Homo sapiens: one gene and its partner. The protein of the gene in region 1 purifies or fractionates together with the protein of each later gene. This does not show direct contact. Each region holds a gene or a part of one and is shown on either strand. Other genes may lie near its edges.

Region 1 (7,034 bases):
CGAACGTCGTGGGGTAGCGCTTCTTCATCCGGCGAAGGACGTCTTTATTGTGGGCTGCCCACACAAACCCTGTGAACACCAGCACCACCACGATTCCTCCCAGGATCATGTTGAAGGGACTCAGAAACCTGAAATATGAGGAAGAAAAAATGAGGGGTGACTAGTTCAGCAATAGAAGTAGCAAAAGGAGAAAGAGGAGTAAAAACAATTATTGAGAACTTACTAATACTTTAATACTTTATCTAAATTGTCTCATTTGATTTCTCATAACCTTATAAAGGAGATACTATTAGTTCATTTCTCAAATGAAGAAGCTAAGGCACAGAGGTTAGAAAATGGTGGGGAAGGCCAGGAATGGTAGTTCACACCTATAATCCCAGCACTTTCAGAGGCCAAGGTGGGAGGATCACTTGAGCCCAGGGGTTCAAGACCAACCCAGGCAACATGGCAAAACCCATCTCTACAAAAATATGAAAATTAGCCAGGTGTGGTGGCACACACCTGTGTTCCCAGCTACTCAGGAGGCTGAGGTGGGAGGATCACTTGAACCTGGGAGGTTGAGTCTCCAGTGAGCCAAGATTCCCCCACTGCACTCCTGGCTGGGTGACAGAGTGAGACCTTATCTCATTAAAAAAAAAAAAAAAAAAAAAGGTGGAGCTGAGATCACACCCAGGCAGTTCCCATCAAAGTATCTCGTTAGAGGTCCACAATTTTGAAGACTAAAACTTCTTTTGAAGGTACTATGTTTAGCTTCCTTACATCCTGGGCTCTAGTACACAGTAGGTTGTGTTTTCTTAGCTCTAAAGGTTTATTTAAATCCTCAGAGAAGCTCATGATGGACGAATGTAGAATACAGGCCACATAATGGCCTCCATGGGCTAGATCCAGTATACAGTCACATTTTTGTTTGGCCTGTACAGTGTTTTAAAAAACTTTTACTTGAAACCCATGTGTTAAAAAAAAATCCAGAAAACTTGGGATTTCTTGTTCTCCTGGAACAAGAAAATAACAGTGCTAGGCCCACTTTCCCACATGTCAACAGCTGGCTTGAGTGCCTTCTCATTCAGACAGAATAAACAGTCTCCATTGAGCTCCAGTCCACACTGCTCTCTACTGCATCATGGACACATAGGCCCAAAGTGAGGTGCTATTAATCACTGTTTTTCTTTTTTTTTTTTTTTTATTTGAGACAGAGTCTTGCTCTGTCACCCAGGCTGGAGTGCAGTGGCGCAATCTTGGCTCACTGCAACCTCTGCCTCCTGGGTTCAAGCAATTCTTGTGCCTCAGCCTCCCGAGTAACTGGGATTACAGGTACATGCCACCACGCCCAGCTAATTTTTTGTATTTTCAGTACAGGTGGGATTTTGCCATGTTGGCCAGGCTGGTCTTGAACTCCTGGCGTCAAGTGATCTGCCCAGCTCGGCCTCCCAAAGTGCTAGGATTACAGGCATGAGCCACACCATGCCCAGTCTAATCATTGTTTTTCTAATAGCTGGCCTGAATCGCTCTCTTACATAACCTGCCTGCCCCATGGAGGCATTTGAGTTTATGACTCCTCACATAGAGAGTTCATTATAAGTGTTTTAAAATGCCCAAAGTATCATTAGGAGATGAGTTACCAATGCAGATTTTCAAGCACACAGTTCCAGATTCATTCTTATATAAGCCAAATGTTTAGTATGTAATAGCAATTACACTACTATTGATAATGGAGGAAACACATTATGTAGAAGAAATTTATGCCAGGCATGGTGGCACACACCTGTAATCCTAGCACTTTGGGAGGCCTAGGTGGGTGGATCACCTGAGGTCAAGAGTTCAAGGCCAGCCTGGCCAACATGGTGGCACCTCATCTCTACTAAAAATACAAAAATTAGCTGGGCGTGGTGGTACATGCCTGTAATCCCAGCTACTTGGGAGGCTGAGGCAGGAGAATCACTTGAACTCAGAAGGTGGAGGTTGCAGTGAGCTGAGATCACGCCATTGCACTCCAGCCTGGGCAACAAGAGCAAAACTCTGTCTCAATAATGATAATAAGAAGAAGAAATTTAGACAAAGTTTTGGGCATTATAGTCGCCCACCCCAATCCACTGTGTATACAAAACCCTTAACAAGACGTCTGTGGTGGGCTGGTACAATGAGTTACTTAACTTTTTACCCTAGAGGCTAATGAGGACTTTACTTGGGAAGGACACAGACGATAGTGTGTTCTCCTCATGCCCTGAATAGTAACATTGCTGATTTGAAATGAGGGAAGGGGGAAGACAGGATAAGGGAGGGTGATGCCAAGAGCTTACTTTCTCTGAAATGGAAGAGATGAAGAACTCATGCTCATATTGGGATTCGTATTCAGGATAAATACAATTCTTTTTCAAAAATCCCTTTAAATTTTAGCTCTGTTTCTGCCTACTGAAACATAAAAGGAATTTTGAACATTTTAAAATTAAGAGTAAAAGCTTTTCACACCTGAATGGGTGAAATTAAGGGATAAAATCAATGTCAAACTGCTTTGAAAAAGCTAAAAATTTCTATTAAGATGCACAAAGCTAAACAGTGGTAAGAGTAGTTGCATATAATTTTTTTTTGTTTGTTTTTTTGAGATGGAGTTTCACTCATTGCCCAGGCTGGAGTACAATGGCGCGATCTCGGCTCACTGCAACCTCTGCCTCCCAGGTTCAAGCAATTCTCCTGCCTCAGCCTCCCTACTAGCTGGGATTACAGGCACCCGCCAACATGCCCAGCTAATTTTTGTATTTTTAGTAAAGACGGGGTTTCACCATGTTGGCCAGGCTGGTCTCGAACTCCTGACCTCATGTGATCCACCCCCCACCCCCCCCGCCCCTCAGCCTCCCAAAGTGCTATTACAGGCATGAGCCACCGCACCCAGCCAGTTGTACATAATTTAAAACTAAACTCTACAATAATAAGTTGCTAATTTCATTCAAAATCCTTGCAAATACTTGTATCCTTCAAGCCAATAAATCCCCTCCTCAGAATATAGTCTAAGGAATTAAACAAAAACGCAAAGATTGAGTTGTAACAGTATTGATATTAGTGGTATTTATGATTAAAAACTTTCAGAAACGACCTATATGGCCAACAATACCAATAGCTGTGGTATTGTATACACAGCTATTTTTAAAACATTGAAGTGCATTTAATAATATGGGAAGACATTATATATTGAGTGGGTAAAAGCAATTGTAATACATAATGCATTGTCTGTTAGGTAGATTTATCATATAAGTTAGATAGCTCAGAAGTAGAAGTTTCTAGGCTGAGTACAGTGGCTCAAGCCTGTAATCCCAGCACTTTGTGGGGGCCAAGGTGGGTGGATCTTTTGAAGTCAGGAGTTTGAGACCAGCCTGGCCAACGTGGTGAAACCCCACCTCTACTAAAAATACAAAAATTAGCTGGGCCTGGGCTGGGCATGGTGGCTCATGTCTGTAATCCCAGCACTTTGGGAGGCTGAGGCGGGCAGATCACCTGAGGTCAGGAGTTCAAGACCAGCCTGGCCTACATGGTAAAACCCTGTCTCTACTAAAAATACAAAAAATTAGTTGGGCTCGGTGGCGGGAGCCTGTAATCTCAGCTACTCGGAGGCTGAGGCAGGAGAATTGCTTGAACCTGGGAGGCGGAGGTTGTAGTGAGCCGAGATGGTGCCATTGCACTCCAGCCTGGGCAACAAGAGCAAAACTATGTCTCAAAAAAAAAAAAAAAAAAAAAGCCAGGTATGGTGGCAGGCACCTGTAGTCCCAGTTACTTGGTAGGCTGAGGCAGGAGAATCACTTGAACCCGGGAGGCAGAGGGTGCAGTGAGCCGAGATTGCGCCACTGCACTCCAGCCTGGGTGACAGAGTGAGACTCTGTTTCCAAAAAAAAAAGAAATAGAAATTTCTATAATTAGTATATTATTTCATAATCAGAAATAAAATGAATATATAAAAAAGGAAATACAAAAACATAAAAGCAGCTGCTCTCCAACCCACAACCGCCGCTTGGCACAGACCAACCACAAAAGTCCATCTCTACTTGTCCCATCTCGCCAACAACATTAATGGAATTTCAGTTCATGAACCACAGCGAAGCTGTTCCTTCTCCAATCCAAATCCTGGTTTTCTGCTCATCCTCCAGATCCTCTTGTGCCAGTCTATAGCACCCCAGTGCCCCAACCTTCCCCAATACCCAGCACATGTGCTATTCTCTCTGCCCTCTTCCCCTCCCTCTTGGTTCTGTGTTACCTGGGTCTACTTGGCCTCTCTGCACTTTCTTTCTGTTTTATTTTATCTGGATTATGCCCTGTCTTCTGAGACAACCCCGGAATTGGTCTGGGAAAGAAAAAATTCCCTTATACGCCTGAGGAAGGAAAGAATCTGATGAATCAAAACCACAATCCCCTTCAGCAGGTTGTAGAGAGTGGAGAGTGAATGAAGAGGCCTTGAAACTCTTATAGATTAATATTATCTAATTCCCAGCATCACAAAAGATTCTAAGCCAGTGTGGTAGCTCATGTCTGTAATCCCAGCACTCTGGGAAGCCGAGGTGGCGGATGCATCGCTTGAGCCCAGGAGTTTGAGGCCATCCTAGGCAACATGGCGAAACCCCATCTCTCCAAAAAAAAAAAAAAACACCCCACAAAAATTAGCCAGGTGTGGCAGCACACACCTATAGTCCCCACTACTTGGAAAGCTGAGGTAGGAGGATCATCTGAGCTCAGAGGTCAAGGCTGCAGGGAGCTGTGATGGTGCCACTATACTCTAGCCTGGGTAACAGAGTGAGATCCTGTCTCAATTAAAAAATAAAAAGATACTTAGAGAAACTGAAAAATTATACCAAAGACTACAGTATAGTAGGATAAGGGGAGTTTATTTCCATTTGCTTATTTTTATTTTCATATTTTTTTCAATGGCCATGTATTCCTTGATGAATAAAAAAAATTGGTATTTAAAAATGAACAAATGAAATTGGGGAAAGGCTCCTGAATGTAAAAAACCCTTTACAAAGCCTTGACTTTGACCTATAACCTACCCAAATGTTTCTTCTGAGCCGTAAAGAAAAACAAAGATCGCCAGGTACAGTGGCTCACACCTGTAATCCCAGCACTTTGGGAGGCTGAGGCAGGTGGATCACAAGGTCAGGAGATCAAGACCATCCTGGTCAACATGGTGAAACCCCGTCTCTACTAAAAGTACAAAACTAAGCCTGGCTTGGTGGCATGTGCCTGTAATCCCAACTACTTGGGAGGCTGAGGCAGGAGAATTGCTTGAACCCGGGAGGCGGAGGCTGCAGTGAGCCGAGATTGTGCCACTGCACTCCAGCCTGGGTGACAGAGCGAGATTCCGTCTCAAAAAAAAAAAAAAAAAAAAAAAAGCAAAGCAAAACAAAGATCAAATCAACACAAAGAACTCAAATGGAGGATTGAAATTCAAGGAAATTCCTTTGCATACCCTGCAAGTAGGAGTGGGTTGGCTGGCAGCAAAGCATCAAAGGGCTCCTACTCAGTTCATTCTGGAATACTTATTAAAATAATAATTCATGAAGTGAAGCATATAACAAAATTCATGTCAAGCTGTTTTTATTTTCCTCTAGACAAGTAAAATACATATTTAGGTTGAGTGCCTAAAGTCCAGGACAAGGAACAATGAAAAATCCAGGCCTAACTCAAGCAATTCCAAATTTGTTTCACCTGTTCTGGTTGCTCATGTCCAAGAGAAAAGAACAGAGCCTGAAGTTCTATAGAACTGGTTTTAGTTCATAACCTGCCCAACAACAGTCTATAATTAGAAAGCAAGCAAGTTTCCAAGCTGGAAAAAAACTAACGAAGTTACTCTGAGCAGAAATTATTTTCTTCTGTATCTGATAAAATGTATACCACTCCAATGCCCTGGCACTTACCTGTATTTGGAACAAAAGACAGACAGACAGACAGACAGACACACACACACACACCCTCTACAGATTAACAGAAATTCTCAGAAATCTGGGAACCAGTTCTTGCCTGAGATGCTTTTTAGTCAACAGTTGGGCTGTTTATCACAGCAATCACGACAAACCCCAAAGACTTTTAGGACAAAACTTTCCATAAACATGCCACCCATCTTTCATGTAGACAGCTGCCTCTGTGGTCTGCTGGGTGGAGTTTCACTTACTGATAGTCCTAGAGTAAGAAAGAGGGCTGGGTGCGGTGGATCATAACTGTAATCCCAGAACTTTGGGAGGCTGAGGTGGGTGGATCAGCTGAAGCTAGGAGTTTGAGACCAGCCTGGCCAACATGGCGAAACCCCATCTCTACTAAAAACATAAAAATTAGCTGGGCGTGGTGGCGCATGCCTGTAATCCCAGCTGTTCAGGAGGCTGAGACACGAGAATCACTTGAACCTGGGAGGTGGAGGTTGAAGTGAGCTGAGATTGTGCCACTCCAGCGTGGGTGACAGAGCCAGACTCCGTCTCAAAAAAAAAAAAAAGAACGAGGGATGGTGAGAAAGAAGGGAGAAACAGCAGGACCTAGTTTTGCAACTCAAAAACCGTTATGTTTTTCTATTGTGAAATTAAAAATATATTAATACATATGTTTGTATATATTTTAATTATATATATTTAAAATATGAACATGTATTACCCAATTCCAATAAATAATTAATAAATCTTTCCCTATAATAGTTACACATTCTAGAGCAGTCATTTATGGTTATAAAAAGGTTTAGAATCCCATCACAGAAATTTTGTAGCAGTCTTCAAAGATGAATCAGTCTAGTCCAATTATACAGATAACTAAACTGAGGCCCAGAGAAGAAACATATCCAAAGGGATCCAGGAGAGAAACAAGAAAACAAGGGTGCCAGTTGTGGCAGCAACTCACAGTAGAACCCATTCTGTCATGTTAACCGGCTTTAAGGATTTCCCCCACACTCTAAGTAACCTACTATAACCAAGGATCATCCTGGAAAATCCCTCTGCACTCTCATTTCTCTCTGAAACAAGGTGGCTATTAGTGGGTGTGGATACAGGTCCTAAACTTCCCAACGTGATTCAGTA
Region 2 (5,797 bases), on another chromosome or scaffold:
TCCCAATTCTGTTTTCTGTAACCATGTGACTGGTGATGCAGAGTGATAACCATGTCTGCCTATCTTGTACTAGACTCTTCATGCTGATCGGATCTTGCATTGAAATAACCATGTGGAAGAACAATGAATCGATTAATGATGACATGTACAACCATATTTAAAGAGCAATAGTGTCCGTGTGTCATGAAAAACTTATTTGTAAACGTTTATATGGTATGATTTTGATTTTATGTATGTTCATAAATCCTGCACTGTATGATATATGTGAGTTAAAACATTGGTGCATGAATTTATTTTCAAAGTATAAAACACATCACTTAAACATTTTATGTGTCAAATAAAATTTGATTATGTAAACACATTTGTTGACTTTTGTTTCCACAGTAAACAAACAAACAGCTGCACCATCAGCTGAAAAAAACCCTTCTAAAAGCACAAGCTACCATTCGCTGGTTGAAGCAGTTTACCCACTGTGTGCATTTTTAATCTGCTGCAATTTCATGAAATGAAAATACCAAAGCATATTTTAAGTCTATAAGCTTTATTGATACTTTGCTTTTACAGTTCACAATGCATTCCACAGATTTAGTTCAGTACAGCTTAAACCACAATGGTATAAATCTTCATTTTGTAATTAATAATTTCTTGCATAACAATGTTTGATATTTGCAAACAAACAACATTTTTGGAAGCATTAGATTCAGTCCATAGATTCTGTGACAAAATTAACTACAGTCAGTCTGTGCAATGAAATTGATGTTGGAGTTCTATGTGTGTGGCATTTCATGTTGAAAACAGATGGTAGTGCTCCTAGAAATATTTCTTCTTCTAGCTTATGTGCTTTGGAACTACACATGTATAACCAATGACTGACTCTGAAATATCAAGCACTGTGGGGTGGCTGGAAGGTAAAGGTCTAAGCTTTGTGAAACACTATACATATATAATCTATATTTACTTATATTGGCAATTAATATAACAGTAAAAGTCACAATACACCTAGAACATACCAGAAAAGCAAGCTTTGTCATTCCTGCTTTACCGGTATGATCTCGTCTAAACAAACATTTCATTTCAGAAAATCTGCATCAATCTACACGGACCATACACAGTGCACAAACTGAAAAGGGCTTTTTTTTTTTTTTTTCTAGCTCCACCATCTCTGCAACTTGCCAAGATGCGGCAAGACTATCTGCAACAAAGTAAAATATACAGGTTTTTTATTCCACCAGTGCCTCAGATAGATAGGAAAAAGATATGATTACGGTTTAAATCCATACATAGCAGCTTACAATACTTAAGATGATGAACACATGGCAGTCAAGACAGGTAATTTTTCCTCACAACAGTGCATGGCTAAAAATAAAGATCTAACAACGATCTGTGAAACTGCACTGCAACGTCAAGGTTCGTTCTTCCCTGACCCTCCCCCGTATAATCAAATGAATATCCCCTTTAAAGATGAACTCCTACTAATTATTTTGGGCGTTTTCATTCAGCTTTGCGCTTCAATCCAGGGATTTTTGCTTGGATTCTGAAAATGAAAAAGTCAATGTAAATATCAGTTTTGTTTGCTGCTGCTTAAAATACCATCTTCCAAGAACTACTTGTATGTTATTCAGCTAATACAATAAATGAAATCCTTAAAGCTGCCTAATTCTAAGCTATAATTTTGCCACCTTGGCCTCATGAATTAGATTTAAACAAAGCCTTAAACACATAATAAACCCAGAAACGAATGGTCCAAATGTTAGAAAAACAATCTTTTGGCAACTCTGAAGTCACACTTAAGGTCTGATAGAGATTTGTTACTCATTATGCCTGCAATATGAAAATACTGTTCTCACAATCCAGCACACCTTATCCTAGTAAAAACACTGCAGATTTTAAATACTTACTTAGCCATAGCATCTTTAACATTCTTATTTGCAAGTCCTAGATAATGATCTATCTGTGCCTGAAAGAGAGGTATAAAGGAATTATTACCGTTGCTAAAGAATCTTATTAACCACTACTATGTGTCAAGCTAAAGGCTTAAGAAACCATCACACTTCTCATTTTTGTAAGACATTGAAAATGGGCACTAATACATCCGTAAATCCCATGTAATAGAGTGAGTGCTCTATTCTGAAGTCAGCAGTTAGTTAGGAAATTACCTGATGCCGTTCATAAATAACAGGAACACTGAAGAGTGAAATGAGAGCTGAAAAGGGAAATATACAACTTTTCAAAAAGAACGGAATGATTTGGGAGGAATAAACACTCAAAAAACTATTAAACTGGCAACTCAAGATAACCAAGCAGTGTTCCTAATGAATGAATAAAAACATAAGGATCTCTGGATGCATCTGCTGTTGAGGAGCCACTCCAGAGGAATGAATGAACTGTGTGAGGCTGCAGTTATTAGAGCTAGGAACCATTTCTAGCTTCAAATCATATCACAGTGAGATTTCATAAAATAAAGGTATCCCTGGTTAGATTTATGACTGCACCATCATATAAAGCCACCCTTTATCTGGTTTATCACTGTTTGTTAGTAGGAGCTGTCTTCAGCAACTAAGGTAGCATTTCAATAAACCGGGAAGCAGTATCACCAACTTATTTAAAGAGAATACAACCTCAAACTTATTTTGAGATGGAGTTTCACTCTTGTTGCCCAACCTGGAGTGCAATGGCACGATCTCCGCTCACTGCAACCTCTGCCTCTTGGGCTCAAGTGATTCTCCTGCCTCAGCCTCCGGAGTAGCTGGGATTACAGGCGTGCGCCACCACGCCCAGCTAATTTTTTCTATTTTTAGTAGAAATGGGGTTTCACCATGTTAGCCAGGCTGGTCTCGAACTCCTGGCCCCAGGTGATCCGCCCACCTTGGCCTCCCAAAGTGCTGGGATTACAGGCATGAGCTACCGCGCCCGGCCCACATTTTCATCCCCTACTTTTCATACAATGAGAATATTCTCCACTAAAATGTCTAAGCTCCTGGCACACAATCTTTCCAGCAATTTTTCATCCCAATGGCTTTGTAGACTTACCCAAAATCAGTAGTGTCAGACCATTAAACAAGGCACCAACATAGGTAAATACCCACATCAACACTGCAAACTATAAGAAAATAACATTAGCCCATTATAAACAAAATTCAAGTAAAGTTTCTTAATTATGCTTTCAAAAGCATCCCATCTAAATGCCTACCTACAAAAGGCATACAACTTGAAGACTGGGTAAAGTACCATGAGCAGTTCACTATTAAGTCACGAGTCTCAATTATGAATTTCAAAATCCTAAAATAATTAATAGATTTGACCCATTTTCTCTGGACTACACTACCAAGTAGTTGATTCTGCTGAGATCAGACAATATACCAAGGGTGCATCTTACCCCTCCAGCCCTAACAACATTTACCTTTTAAATGGGAAGACTATAAAGGTGTTATGAGAATTGTCTATTAGAATTGATTTCAAAGTATGAACTAGTTGAGTGCTTGAAGATATATGAGCTGAATAATTCAGACATTAATATCTCAGCTGATAAGCAATAATTGGGCAAAGAGTACTTATCAGGGAAATTACGTTTCAGGTACCAAAAATATCACCTCTAGCCTTTGAAGGATCAGGCACAAAGTCAGTCTGAATTTTGTTAAACATTGGTCATCATCAGTTCCTTTGCTTTCTAATTCAAGGCCTTCATGTGTATGTCTGGCAATCACTTTGACCTACTTAGTAGGTAACAAACATGATGCCACCAGCTACAGTGATTATTTAGGCTTATGTAACACTATAAATGAAAAGGGGAGTAGTAGAGCACCCCCATTATCTAAAGCGGGGATCAGCAAACTTTCTCTGTGAAGAGCCAGACAGTAGAATTTTAGGTTTTATGGGCCACATAGGGTTTGTGTCTCATATTATTCTGTGTCGTTGTCATAACCCTTTAAAAATGTACACCACCCACTCTTAGCTCCCACACTATACAAAAACAGGCCGTGGCCCAAACAAGCAGTGGTTTGCTAACCCTTGATCTAAAGCATATATCTTTCTCCATGTATTAAACGAACTCTGACTGAATGCTTACTGACCATTAATTAAGCAGTCAAACATTAGTAAGCATATTTATTACAGCTTAGGAAGACACTTTGGATGACTCTACCAAGCAACAGTTCTACAAATAGCAACACTCTGGTCACCCTAACTGAATTTAACTAATGTTCAAGTCAGTAAATATCAGGCATTCTTAATATCTGTCAATTGAAAAAAAATTTTTTTAAGCTGCCGTATTCTTAGCAATTGCTATTGGAACCCCTGGTAGAAAGGTTTGAAGGATGACTTCAGTTAGTAAGGCTTTTCTCTCACAGTTTTATAGACTCCTATTGCTGAAGCTAAATATAACTTTTGCACTTGAGCAAGTTTACTATAGAGTAAGAGAGTTATTTTTATCCATCACTATCCACAAGTCTAAAGGGAAAAGTGTTGACCTTCCATATTTTAGAAGAAATTACTCTAGCAACGAAGATGCCCTTAACATGACAGAAGATAGTAACAAACACAAGCTAAAATAACTCCTCATTTGGTCATTACAGTCACTGACAAGGCTTCACTCCAAGTCCACAGGGGAAAAGCCCAAGACTTCACACCTGAGCCACTGTAGGGGCTCAAATGTCACTTGCCTCTTTGAGAACACTTCCTAAAAGCCAGGCTATCCCAAGACAAAGAGAAGAACACAGGGAGGTCTCAAATGTCCTTAGGGCCAGGCAGGTGACATACATGTATGTGAGAGGCTGGGAGAGAACTGAGGCACACAGTGATATGCATTCTTCCTCTCAAAGGGGCACTTACAACCCTGCTCCATACGCTGTGGCCATGCAAATATTCCAGGCCAGTGTTGCCAGAAATGTACACTTTTGTGTGCTATCATATAATTTTTAAATGTTGCAGCTATGTTGAGAAAACTGAATACTTCGGCGGCCCAAAACAGAAATAGTGGTTAAGTGTATTCAGGGAACACACCACCAGGAGAGAAAGGGGTGGCAGCAAGAACTAACCTAGAGAGTAACCATTATTAATGGGAATCCACCACAAATGATGGATTTGTAACATGGCAGGAATAAGGTCAATAAACACTTTAAAGAAGCAAACAGGCTGCTCTCATTTTGGACTTAACAAATTCTACACGATTCCATGGCAAATACTTTGCAACATTATAGCCAATACTTATTAACTGAAGAGGTCAAAGCTTATCTCTCCATTGCACAGTATCGAGACTGGAGGAAGGAGGCCTAAAATGTAATGAAGATCTAACAAATACTTACTGAAAAGGGGCAAGGGCCACATCTGGTTTATCTTTCTTCCAGGGCAATAAGAGAATTAAATTCACTGTGTATAACACACCTGATTAAAGAGCTCTGCAGATTTGTGATGTTTCAATTTGGGGGAAGGGGTATCTTTAAGGCAAACGGTGGGAGAGTGCTTAGTAAGATCTCAGAAATTACTCTGGCAGTTCTGACCATTTCAAAACTTTCCTGCACTCTCAAACTCTAAACTCTACTTGCCCTTCTGTGTCTCCTTCAGATTCATTCATTAGTTGGTAGTTTGGACTCTCTCTATATCCCCAGCCCACTTCCTTCTAATTTTTCTGAGAGCTCAAGAAACCTGAAAGGAAGCTGTCAAAATGTGAATGTTAACAGCTGCCTATGAGCCTGAGAGCTAGATTTTAGTGTTCTTCTGGGTCAGCTATTTCTGGAGCTCAGGCCGTTTTTTTTTTTTTCTTCCTCTCACTTTCAGATTTAAGATTGTGTTCTGGAACATT

Evidence for each region. The genes of interacting proteins can lie anywhere in the genome.
Region 2: the proteins of ARL6IP5 (region 1) and RTN4 purify together in Homo sapiens (affinity purification with mass spectrometry; 4 studies listed by BioGRID and IntAct, with this or other methods). This does not show direct contact.

Annotation. Positions count from the first base shown.
Region 1 is NC_000003.12:69,094,933-69,101,966, reverse strand, and holds part of ARL6IP5 (PRA1 family protein 3), read right to left. Parts: intron 129-7,034; coding exon 1-128. UniProt on the Homo sapiens protein: Regulates intracellular concentrations of taurine and glutamate. Negatively modulates SLC1A1/EAAC1 glutamate transport activity by decreasing its affinity for glutamate in a PKC activity-dependent manner.
Region 2 is NC_000002.12:54,971,665-54,977,461, forward strand, and holds the end of RTN4 (reticulon-4), read right to left. Parts: intron 3,101-5,797; coding exon 3,031-3,100; intron 2,204-3,030; coding exon 2,157-2,203; intron 1,958-2,156; coding exon 1,899-1,957; intron 1,535-1,898; coding exon 1,492-1,534; 3' UTR 525-1,491; downstream 1-524. UniProt on the Homo sapiens protein: Required to induce the formation and stabilization of endoplasmic reticulum (ER) tubules. They regulate membrane morphogenesis in the ER by promoting tubular ER production.